2 separate regions of the Homo sapiens genome follow, and region 1 is linked to region 2. The links come from fine-mapping of genetic effects on gene expression. A gene starts in region 2. The other region holds a variant in brackets. All regions are shown on one strand. Distances are between the middles of the regions. Region 1 overlaps CDC25C (cell division cycle 25C). Region 2 holds the start of CTNNA1 (catenin alpha 1).

Region 1 (5,376 bases), 460 kb after region 2:
CCCGGGAGGCAGAGCTTGCAGTGCGCTGAGGTCGCGCCACTGCACTCCAGCCTGGGTGACAGAGCAAGACTCTGTCTCAAAAAAAAAAAAAAAAAAAAAAATTAGCTGAGTGGTTGGGCACGGTGGCTCACACTTGTAATCCCAGAACTTTGGGAGGCTGAGGTGGATGGATCACGAGGTCAGGAGTTCGACACCAGCCTGACCAACACGGTGAAACCCCGTCTCTACTAAAAATACAAAAGTTAGCTGGGCATGGTGGCAGGCACCTGTAATCCCAGCTACTCGGGAGGCCGAGGCAGGAGAATTGCTGAAACCTGGGAGGTAGAGGTTGCAATGAGCCGAGATCGTGCCACTGCACTCTAGCCTGGGTGACAGAGCTAGACTCCATCTCAAAAAAAAAAAAAAAATTAGCCAAGCATGGTAGTCAGCACCTGTAATGCCAGCTACTCCAGAGGCTGAGGCAAGGAGAATCACTTGAACCTGGGAGGCGGAGGTTGCAATGAGCCGAGATCATGCCATTGCACCCCAGCCTGGGCGACAGAGTGAGACTCTGTCTCAAAAAAAAAAAAAAAAAAATCCAAAGAAAACGGAGACAATTTTTGTGACCTTGAGTTGGCAAAAATTTATTAGATACAATGCTTAAAAATGGATACAGACTGGGCGTGGTGGCTCATGCCTGTAAACCCAGCACTTTGGTAGGCCAAGGCGGATGGATCACTTAAGCCCGGGAGTTCGAGACCAGCCTGGACAACATGGTAAAACCCTCTCTCTATAAAAAATACAGAAATTGGCTGGGCATGGTGATGCGCATCTGTAGTCCCAGTTACTCAGGAGGCTGAGTTGGGAGGATCGCTTGAGCCTGAGAGGCAGAGGTTGCAGTGAGCTAAGATTGTGCCACTGCACTCCAACCAGAGTGACAGCGAGACCCTATCTCAAAAAAAAAAAAAAAAAGATAAGTTTCAATTAGCTAATTAATTCCAAACTCTTAGTAATATGGCTCTTAGCATAATTATTATGGTGTGTTCTAGAGAAGCCCCTTTTGAAATCCTCATCTAGCTTTCCCCTGCCTTCTCAGGGGAAAATTGAAGTTATATGAAGTCCTGTCTGTCATGGAGACCAGGCACCCTACTCCTCAGTGCCTCACCATATCTCCTTTCCTACCCTACCTTTGGTTGATCCATTCATGCATCACTGGCTTCGTGGCCTTGACTGTATCTCTTGGCTTCTTCCTTTTGGGCTTTGGCTTCTGCTACTGCCTAATTATTTCTCCATCTTCCAAGTTAGGCAACCAAGAGAGGGAACCTGATTGGCCTAGATTATTTTTGCTTATTCTAGACCACTAAATAGATGTGTTCAACCAGCAATATGGTCCAGTCATCAGTGTCTGGGGGGTAGGGTGGATGGGGACATAGGGCGATGTTTGGAAGGAGTCTAAGGGTACGTATAATGTGGACGGTACCATCAGCTGGTATCACGAACAAGAGGTAGGACCATGTGTGTGATAAACAACATAATATCCATAGCTGTCATAAAGCAAAATGTTGTTATTCTTATTTCGTTCTTCCAGAAACCATTGATCATCAAGCTGCCTTCCAGTTATGGCTCTCTTATTGTATAGCCCCCCTCCTAAATCAGTCCATAACAGGTAGTGCGATAAGTGTTTAGAGAAGGAGCTTTTGCCTGTTCTCTAGGTGAGAGGTAGAGATCTCAAAGTATGTGGCAACAGAGGATAGAATTGTGGATTAGTTGGAAGGTGTTATCAGAGGTCATTTGATAGACCCTCAACTCTGAATATAGCACCCAAACCATGCCTTTCAAATAAACAACAGTCTATCCTCTTATACTTTAATCTGTTCCTGTGTAAGCAATTCTCAAGGCTAGTTCTTCATGACGTTTGAGCCACTTTTTTTTCCCTGATGGGTTTCATAGTATCCATCCTATAATGGTCAGCATGCTATTTGATTTTAGTGTGTCCTTTTTTCTTGCATGATGCTTCTTTTGCTATTTTTCTTCTTGGCTTTTCATCTTTAGGTTTGTTGAGGTCCTTAAATCCTGATTGTCAATGTCCTAGGATCCCAGAGACAAAATGGACTTATGTTTTTTTTTTTTTTTTTTTTTTTGGTCACATAACTGGAGGGACTGAGCTTGTGTTTGCTTTCTGTTAGAAGAACTGGTGCATCTAAGACAGTCAGCTGCAGAATTTGGTTTGGCTAGTTAAGACGTCCATGGAGATGGAATATCATGCAGTCCAGGTAGAAAGATATTAACGGGCCTATGAAGACAGGTTGCCTACCCAAGGCTTCTCAAACTTGAGAAATCACCTGGGCATCTTGTTAAAATGCAGATTTTAATTCAGTAGGTTTGGGGTGTGGCCTAACATCTGGAAACCTGCATTTCAAAGAAGCTCCCAGGAGATGTTGTTGCTGCAGGTCTGCAGACACACTTGGAGGAGTAAGAACTAGGGGGTTTAATATTCCCAAACAGGTGAGCAGAAGTGGCCTATATCGCTCCCCGTCGATGCCAGAGAACTTGAACAGGCCAAGACTGAAGCAGGTGGAAAAATTCAAGGACAACACAATACCAGATAAAGTTAAAAAAAAGTATTTTTCTGGCCAAGGAAAGCTCAGGAAGGTAAGAACTTTTTAAGATGAAAATCTTGTTCATCTTCTATCTCATGTCTTTGCTTTTCTGGTATGAGGATTGTTTTATTATGCCTTTTTTGTCTTCTTCCTCTTTACTTTTACTTTTTCCTCTTTGTTCTTTCCATCTTTCTGTCTTTTCTACATCTGTATCCACGTGAAATATATATATATATATAAAATATTTATATAACATAGATACATAAAGTATATCTATATTGTACTTTTAGAAATGTTGTCATAGGCCGGGTGCAGTGGCTCACGCCTATAATCCTAGCACTTTGGGAGGCCGAGGCGGGCGGATTGCCTGAGCTCAGGAGTTCAAGACCAGACTGGGCAACACGGTGAAACCCCGTCTCTACTAAAATACAAGAAATCAGCTGGGC[G/A]TGGCAGCATGTGCCTGTAGTCCCGGCTACTCAGGAGGCTGAGGCAGGAGAATCGCTTGAACCCGGGAGGTGGAGGTTGCAGTGAGCCAAGATTGTGCCACTGCACTCCAGCCTGGGCAACAGAGCAAGACTCCGTCTCAAAAAAAAAAAAAAAAAGAGAAATGTTGTCATCATACCGTCTTCCCAACCCTTTTTCTTAAGATCTGAAAGAATACAAGGGAACTTTGGTATGGATATTTTACTGCTGTTTTACATGCAGTCTGACAGAAACAACATCATATAGCAGGTTGGTTTTGTGGAAAGCAACTTCTGAAAAACTTAGCCTTTGTCCTTTACCCTCCCCAACTTTAAAAAAATTAAATAGATGGGAGGATCACTTAAGGTCAGAAGTTCAAGACCAGCCTGGTCAATATAGCATGACCCCATCTCTAATAAAAAAAAATAAAATAAAAAATTAAAATTCTAAAATCTTTGGATATTTTATAAAATCAACTTATTTATTTATTTATTTATTTTCCCCTGAGATGGGGTCTCACTCTGTCACCCAGGCTGGATTGCAGTGGCATGGTCTTGACTCACTGCAGCCTCAATATTTATTTATTATTAAAAATAATAAATAAACAAATGGAGTCTCACTCTGTCTCCCAGACTGGAGTGCAGTGGTGCAATCGTAGCTCACTATAGCCTTGGCCTCCTGGGCTCAAGTGATCTCCCTACCTCAGCCTCCCATGTAGCTAGGATTACAGATGTGCGCCACCATGGCCCACTCCATCCACTGGTTTTTAAACCTTTAACATGAGGATTGGGTGTGGGGTGGGAATCTTGTCATCTTCAGGGCTTATGTTTAAAGAAGACAGTCTCTCTGTGTGACATTACTATCACTCAGATGCTGGAGGAAGATTCTAACCAGGGGCACCTGATTGGTGATTTTTCCAAGGTGAGTTTGGCTACACCCATCCTGTATTTCAGTGAGTCATTTTGGATCTGAATCTTCTCTGTTTGCCGAGAATGCCTGGTGTAAATATGCATCCTCACCAAGTACTCTTTGGTAACCTGACAGTGCTCTAGTGGTAGATCCAGGCCCTAAGCCTTTCCAGAGAGAAAGTATTTCTTATTCTTCTGGGAAGATCCAGAACAGGGGAAAGTATGAGACTTTTTACCTTTTTTCTGTTTAAAAACATATTTTAAAATTATGTAAATAATACTTGGTTGTTACAGAAAAAGTAGAAAATGAAGAAATTTATCCCAAACTTTATTAACCAGGGTAATATTGCTTAGTATATACTCTTTTTTTCCCCCCTACTGTCTGTGTAATTGCAGAAGGTACATATTCTTACAGATTTTTTTCTGTGTTTTCACAAACACATATACAAATACAGTTTTTGCTTTTCTACAAAAACAGTTTATATTGTTTTGTTATCTGTTGTTTTTCCTCTCATTTAATAATTATATCAGGGGCATCTTTTTTCATATTAATAAGCAGTTATGCTTCATTCTTTCTTTTTTTAAGATTCAAGGTCTTGATCTGTTGCCCAGGCTGGAGTACATTGGCATGATCATAGCTCACTTCAGCCTCGAGCTCCTGGCCTCAAGAAATCCTCTCTCTCCTTGGCTTCCCAAAGCACTGAGGTTACAGGCATGAGCCACCATGCCCAGCCCATTTCATTTTAATAGCTCCATATTATTTCTTTTTTTTTTTTTTTTGGCTGCTCATAATTTCTTCATAAATCCCTTCTTGTAAGATATTTGGTTTTACAATTTTTTCTTATGAATGATACCAAGATGAATATATTTGTAGAGAAATCTAAAACTTCGTACACATCCTTGATTTGTTCTTTAGGATCAGTTCTTAGAAATGGACTTGATGTATATGCACTTTATAGAGACACTGATTTTTTTGAAGGCCTCTGGGGTTTTAAGGGTCACTTGGAAAGAAGGACAAAATAAGGGTCTTTGATCTCAAACTTGGGTGTGGAATACTTGCTGTTATTTCAGCTCTTGTGTATTTCTAGGTATGTGCGCTGCCAACCGTGTCAGGGAAACACCAAGATCTGAAGTATGTCAACCCAGAAACAGTAAGCAGATTTCTGGAGATGGTAACTGGTTACATAAGCTACCATCTGGTCTCTTCTGTCCCTAAAATGCCCATTTCCATTTGTATTTCTTTCACTGTGTTCACTCACACAGGCTCCTTATTCAACTGAAGTTATATTGAAGGACTCATTTTTTTCCCCATTCTTCTCTCTCCTTCGTTTTTAGTTAAACAAATGATACATAGTTTTTGTAAAAGGGAAAAAGGGAGGGGTCAGGCATGGTGGCTCACGCCTGAAATCCTAGCATTTTGGGAGGCT
Region 2 (5,376 bases):
CACTGAACCCCAGCCTGGGCAACACAGGGAGACTCCATCAAAAAAAAAAAAAAAAAAAAAAAAAAAAAAAAAAAGAAGGAAATCCCAAAACCCGGGCAGGGCAGTTACCCTGGATCTCCACATCTGGTTCATGTCTCCAGAAGAGACAGGAGTCCCACTTTGGACACCTTGAGTTTGAGAAGCCTGGGACACCCAAAAAGCTTCCCAATGCACAGGTGACCATGTGGGTCAGGAGACACACCTGCACTCAAAGGCTTGGACTTTTAGCACATAAGGCTGATGACAGAAGAGACTGCACAGAGCAGTGATTCTCATCTTGGAGGAGGGTACCTCTCATCTCTAAGTCACTATATGAAATGAGATATCACTGATGGGAGTGAAGGTGATGCCACATCAGTGGTGTGGAGGACAAAGATACTTTGGAAAGAACCCTGGGTACGAGAGGAAAGAGTGAGGGCGAGGAAAAGAAAGAAACTGAGATGAGTCAAAAGGAAAAGAAAACCAGGAGAGTGATATCACAATTCCCCAAACTCCTATGCCCTTTTATGCTTCTCATGACTTTCTCCCTTCACTTAAAAAAAACTCGACTCATGTTTCATCCAGATCAAATGCCACCACCTCCTGAAAGCCTTTCTGGACTTACCCAAGTAAAACTTATTAGCCCCCTCTCCGTGCCTCTACAAGTTTCTTTTGTTGTTACTATTAGGTAAGATTTGACTCAGACAATAGTTTCATTAGTACTGTTAAGGCACTTACTGCAGTCCGCTCTGTACTACACCTGGGGTGTGTGTCTCCCCTATTACACTGTGAGCTCTTAGGTGGATTAAAAAATTATTCTTTCGCTGAATAAATATCCAGATGGGGTCAGGCACCCTGGCTCAGGCCTGTAATCACAACACTTTGGGAGGCTGAGGCAGGAGGACCACTTGAGCCCAGGAGTTCGAGACCAGCTTGGGCAAGACAGCGAGACACCATCTCTACCAAAAATACAAAAATTAGACGGATGTGGTGGCGCGTGCCTGTAGTCCCAACTACTTCGGAAGCCGAGGTGGGGGGATCACTTGAGCCCAGGAGACAGAAGCCGCAGTGAGTCATGATCGTGTCACTGCGCTCCAGCCCGGGCGACGGAGACCCCGTCTTTAAAAAAAATGTTTGTTCAAAAGTCCAGATTGGTAAATAATTAGGCAGAAACTATAGGTAACTCCTACACTCATTCTTCATTCTTCCTGTAAAACAAAATAACACATCCTAATTAATTCGATTTATAAATTCCGTTCCTTAAAGTAACACCCACCTGTCCAGTATTTAAAAATCACTGCTGACTAAACACAAATATTCGCTCCACAAAATGCCTATCCTGTCCCAACAATGATGTAAGCATTTCCTTCATCATAAATATAAAATGCCCCGAATTTAGTCGTAGACTTGACATATCTCGCTCTTTTCCAAATAATTGTAAATTCTGTACAAAACACACGCACCAAAAAAATGTCACCAAGATGCAAGAGGACGTAAGAGGGAGTCAACCTTGGAACTGGGCCAACCGCCGCCTGCATTACTGGGAAGCCACTGCTGCCAAGCAAAGGTCAGGCATTCATTCAGGCAACATTTTTTCCAACAAGTGCTTCACACTCGCACGCACACACACGCTCCTTTAAAAGTCAACAACAATTAAAAAAAAAAAAAAACCTCTCTAATGCCACTCCTGAAAACTAGGGCTGAAAGCTAAGTGCGTCCAACCGACAAGAAACCCAGGAAAGCTGAGTAATCCCCGAGTCCAAGTGGACGGTCACGCCAAAAGTCCACACGGGTGTGGCCCACCTACGGCGAAGCTGTATGGGAGAAGCCCGGGCTCCAGCCTCCCGGTTCGCCGAGCCCGCGTCCCCGCCGCCCCATCGGGAAGTCTCAGCGGCCGGGAAGGGGGAGGGGGCAGGAACGCCTCGGAGCCGGACGACAATCACTTCCCGGGAAAGCGGCTCCCAGACAAGCCGCCCCAGGGAAGGAAGGCGGCCGAGGGGCCCGGCGCGGGGCTGCCGCGCGCGCCGAGGCCGCGGTAACAAAGTTTGGAAACCGCGAGAAAACTTTTCCAAGAGGAAACGCGGCGGCGGCGCTGGGCCTATAGTTTCTCCTCCCCAGCCCAGGCGGCCCCCCGACTTCCCGAGCGCTGGGAAGCGCCGGCCGTGCCCGCCCGGGCCCCATACTCGGGCCCTGCGGGGGAAGGGACCGCCGGCCCGACGCGGGTCCCACGCCCGCCCGGGGCCCAATTCCCGGCGACGTCGCCAAAGAAACCGCGCCCCGCCCGCTCGCCCGCCCGCGGCTCGCGGGGCCCAGCTTGGGACGGCCCGGCCCAAGGACCCTCTCGGCCTGGCCCGAGAGACCGCGCCCGCGAGGAGGGAGGTACGAAGTTACCTGCGGCTAGCTGGGCGAGCGCTAAATTCCAGAGGCCCGAAGCAGACGGGCGCTGCTTTGTCTCCCTCCAGTCCGGCTAGGAGGAGGAAATGGGCCGCCCCACGCCCCCGCCCCCGGCCCGCCCCCCGCCCGCGGCCCCCGCCCCTGTCCCGGCCCCGCCCGCCCTTCCTGGCACCTCCCTCCGACTCGCTCTTCCCGGCGCCTCCCGCCGCCGCCCCGCCCGCTCCTCCCGGCCGTTCCGGCCTCCGCTTTTGGGGAAAGGGAAGGCCCCCACCGCGAAGAGAGTCTGGCAACGCCGGACCGGGACCCCCGAGGGACCTCTTCCTCCCCGCCGCCCACCTCAGAATTCCTTCCTCCCCGGCCCCTAGTGGGAGCTTAGGCCGGGAGTGACCCCTGAGAGGGAGGAGGAGCGGTGACTCCTGGAACAGCCCGCGGGCGGAGAGGGCTGCGCGAGGGCAGGTGAGTCACCGCTCCGCGCACAGGTGAGGCTCAGGGGCGGCCTCGCGCGGGCCCCCACCCCGGCGGAATCCCAGAGACGCGACCAGGGGTACTGGGCACGCTCCCCTCAAGAGTGTCACAGGTGTCCCGGAGTCACAGTCTTCTGGAAAAGTGATCTAGGCCAACTACCTGGCTTTACAGAAGGAGAAGCGGAGGCTAAGGAAAGGCCCCACAGCTTCGGGACACAGTGGAACTAGAATCTGACTCTCAGGACCTTTCATAATGTGAGGTGGAAGCGCCCCTAGAATTCACCTAACCCGTCCCCTCACTCCACAGATGGAAACACCCGAAGCCCTCTTGATCAAGGACTTTTTTTTTTTTTTAAGACGGGGTCTCCCTCTGTCGCCCAGGCTGGGGTGGAGTGTCGCGATCACGGCCCACTGCAGCCTCAAATCCCTGGACAACCGACCCTCCCACCTCAGCCTCCGGAGTAGCTGGAACTACAGACACAGAGTCTCACTATGTTGCCAGGCTGGTCTCAAACTCATGGGCTCAAGAAATCCTCCTCAGCCTCCCAAAGTGCTGGGATTACAGGCTAGAGCCACCTTGCGGGGAGGACATTTACAAACACAAAAGAGGCACCGCAGCAGCTGTCCCTTTTTGGGCTTGTTCCCGCCCCGCCCCCAGCACGTCCCCCCTCCCAGCTTGTCCCCCTCCTCCAACAAATTTGAGGGACCTGACTTCTATCTCTATTCCTCTGGTCATTTGGGGCATTTTATTCTTACCCTTTCTTATCTTCATAGTGAATACTCCAAAAACAAAAGAAAACAAAATTACAAAGCAAACAAACAACACAAAAAAACAAAAACTACTACATGCTCACTATCATCCTGGTATAGAAAACCCTAATGATGTTTCCCCTGCTCACGGGATGATGAATAAGATAGATTTCAGTATTGGCCTATAAACCTGAATAATGCAAGACGACGATGTCCACTGCTGGCCTTGTGCTGAATAGAGAGCAGGGTGCTAGGGAGACCTGCCCTTACCGTGTTTACCCTCTACTCCTCACATCTCCCTCTCCCCCAAGGGAATATAAACTTCTGGAAAGCAGGAGCTGTATCTCCTGCAGCACCCAGCACATTGCCCATCCCCTAGGGAGTGCCTAGTGAACATCTGTGGGTGAATGTGCCCACTGTAATTCAAAGTACTGTGGGCCTGTGCTAGTTAACAGATGCTGACAAAGGGCAATAGGACCATGAAGTGGGGAGAGAACAACCTTTAAGAAAAAGAGGATGGGCACAGTGGCTCACACAAGTAATCCCAGCACTTTGGGAGGCCAAGATGGGTGGATCACATGAGCTCAGGAGACCAGCCTGGGCAAAATGATAGAACCCTTGTCTACAAAAAAATACAAAAACATAGCTGGGTGTAGTGGCACCTACCTGTAGTCCCAGCTACTTGGGAGGCTGAGGTGGGAGGATCGCTTGAGCCTGGGAGTTCAAGGCTGCAGTGAACCATGACTGCACCACTGCACTCCAGCCTGGGCAACACAGTGAGACTCTGTCTCAAAAAGAAAAAGAAAAAGGCAAACCCTGACAAGGTCATTCTTGTCCAACTACCCCTGTCCTGTTTCTGGCTGCAGGGTCTTTGCTCCTGTAGTCTCCTCTGCCTAGAGTGGCTTTGGCGTCCCTCTACTTCACCTGGCTAACTCAGAACATAATTCATATATTTTGGATATTTGTCCCTGCCCAAATCTCACATTGAAATGTAATCCCCAGTGTTGGAGGTGGGGCTGGTGGGAGGCATTTGGGTAATAGAGGAGGATCCCTCATGGCTTGGTGCTGTCCTCCAGGTACTAAGGGAATTCTCATGAAATGTAGTCGTTTTAAAGTGTAGCACCGGCCAGGCACAGTGGCTCACACCTGTAATCCCAACACTTTTGAGAAGCCAAGGTGGGCGGATAGCTTGAGCCCAGGAGTTCGAGACCAGCCTGGGCAACATGGTAAAAACCCATCTCTACAAAAAAATACAAAAAAATTAGCCAAGCAGGCTGGGCACCGTGGCTCACGCCTATAGTCCCAGCACTTCAGGAGGCCAAAGCGGGCAGATCATCTGAGGTCAGGAGTTCAAGACCAGCCTGGGGCAACATGGTGAAACCCCATCTCTACTAAAAGTACAAAATTAGCAGGGCATGGTGGCATGTGCCTGTAATCCCAGCTACTCGGGACGCTGAGGCAGGAGAATCATTTGAACCTGGGAGGCAGAGGTGGAGCCGAGATCACGCCATTACACTCCAACCTTGGCAACAAAAGCAAAAGTCTGTCTCAAAAAAAAAAAAAAAGCCAGGCATGGTGGTGTGTGCCTGTAGTCCCAGCTACCTGGGGGGCTCAGGTGGGAAGATCACCTGAGCCTGGGGAGATTGAGGCTGCAGTGAGCCATGATTGTGCCACTACACTCCAGCCTGGGCAACGGAGTGAGACCCTGTCTCAAAAACAAAAAGATGTGGCACCTCAGCCCCCTCCTGCT

Evidence for each region. PIP is the estimated chance that this variant, and not a neighbour inherited with it, causes the effect.
Region 1: its variant is fine-mapped to the expression of CTNNA1 in whole blood (INTERVAL, PIP 0.97).

What each region holds. Positions count from the first base shown.
Region 1 is chr5:138,289,225-138,294,600 of GRCh38, reverse strand. It overlaps CDC25C (cell division cycle 25C), which reads left to right. Exons shown (of 14, transcript NM_001790.5): 8 at 2,485-2,631; 9 at 3,861-3,962; 10 at 5,038-5,100. Among named protein-coding and RNA genes, the nearest start is that of GFRA3, 17 kb to the right of the region's middle. The variant G/A (reference allele first, on the strand shown) is at 3,026.
Region 2 is chr5:138,750,544-138,755,919 of GRCh38, reverse strand. CTNNA1 (catenin alpha 1) reads right to left here and starts at 2,495. Exons shown (of 18, transcript NM_001903.5): 1 at 2,410-2,495. It overlaps CTNNA1-AS1 (CTNNA1 antisense RNA 1), which reads left to right and starts at 1,996. Exons shown (of 2, transcript NR_134244.1): 1 at 1,996-2,397. RefSeq lists enhancers at 1,328-1,894, 1,895-2,462 and a silencer at 2,166-2,605.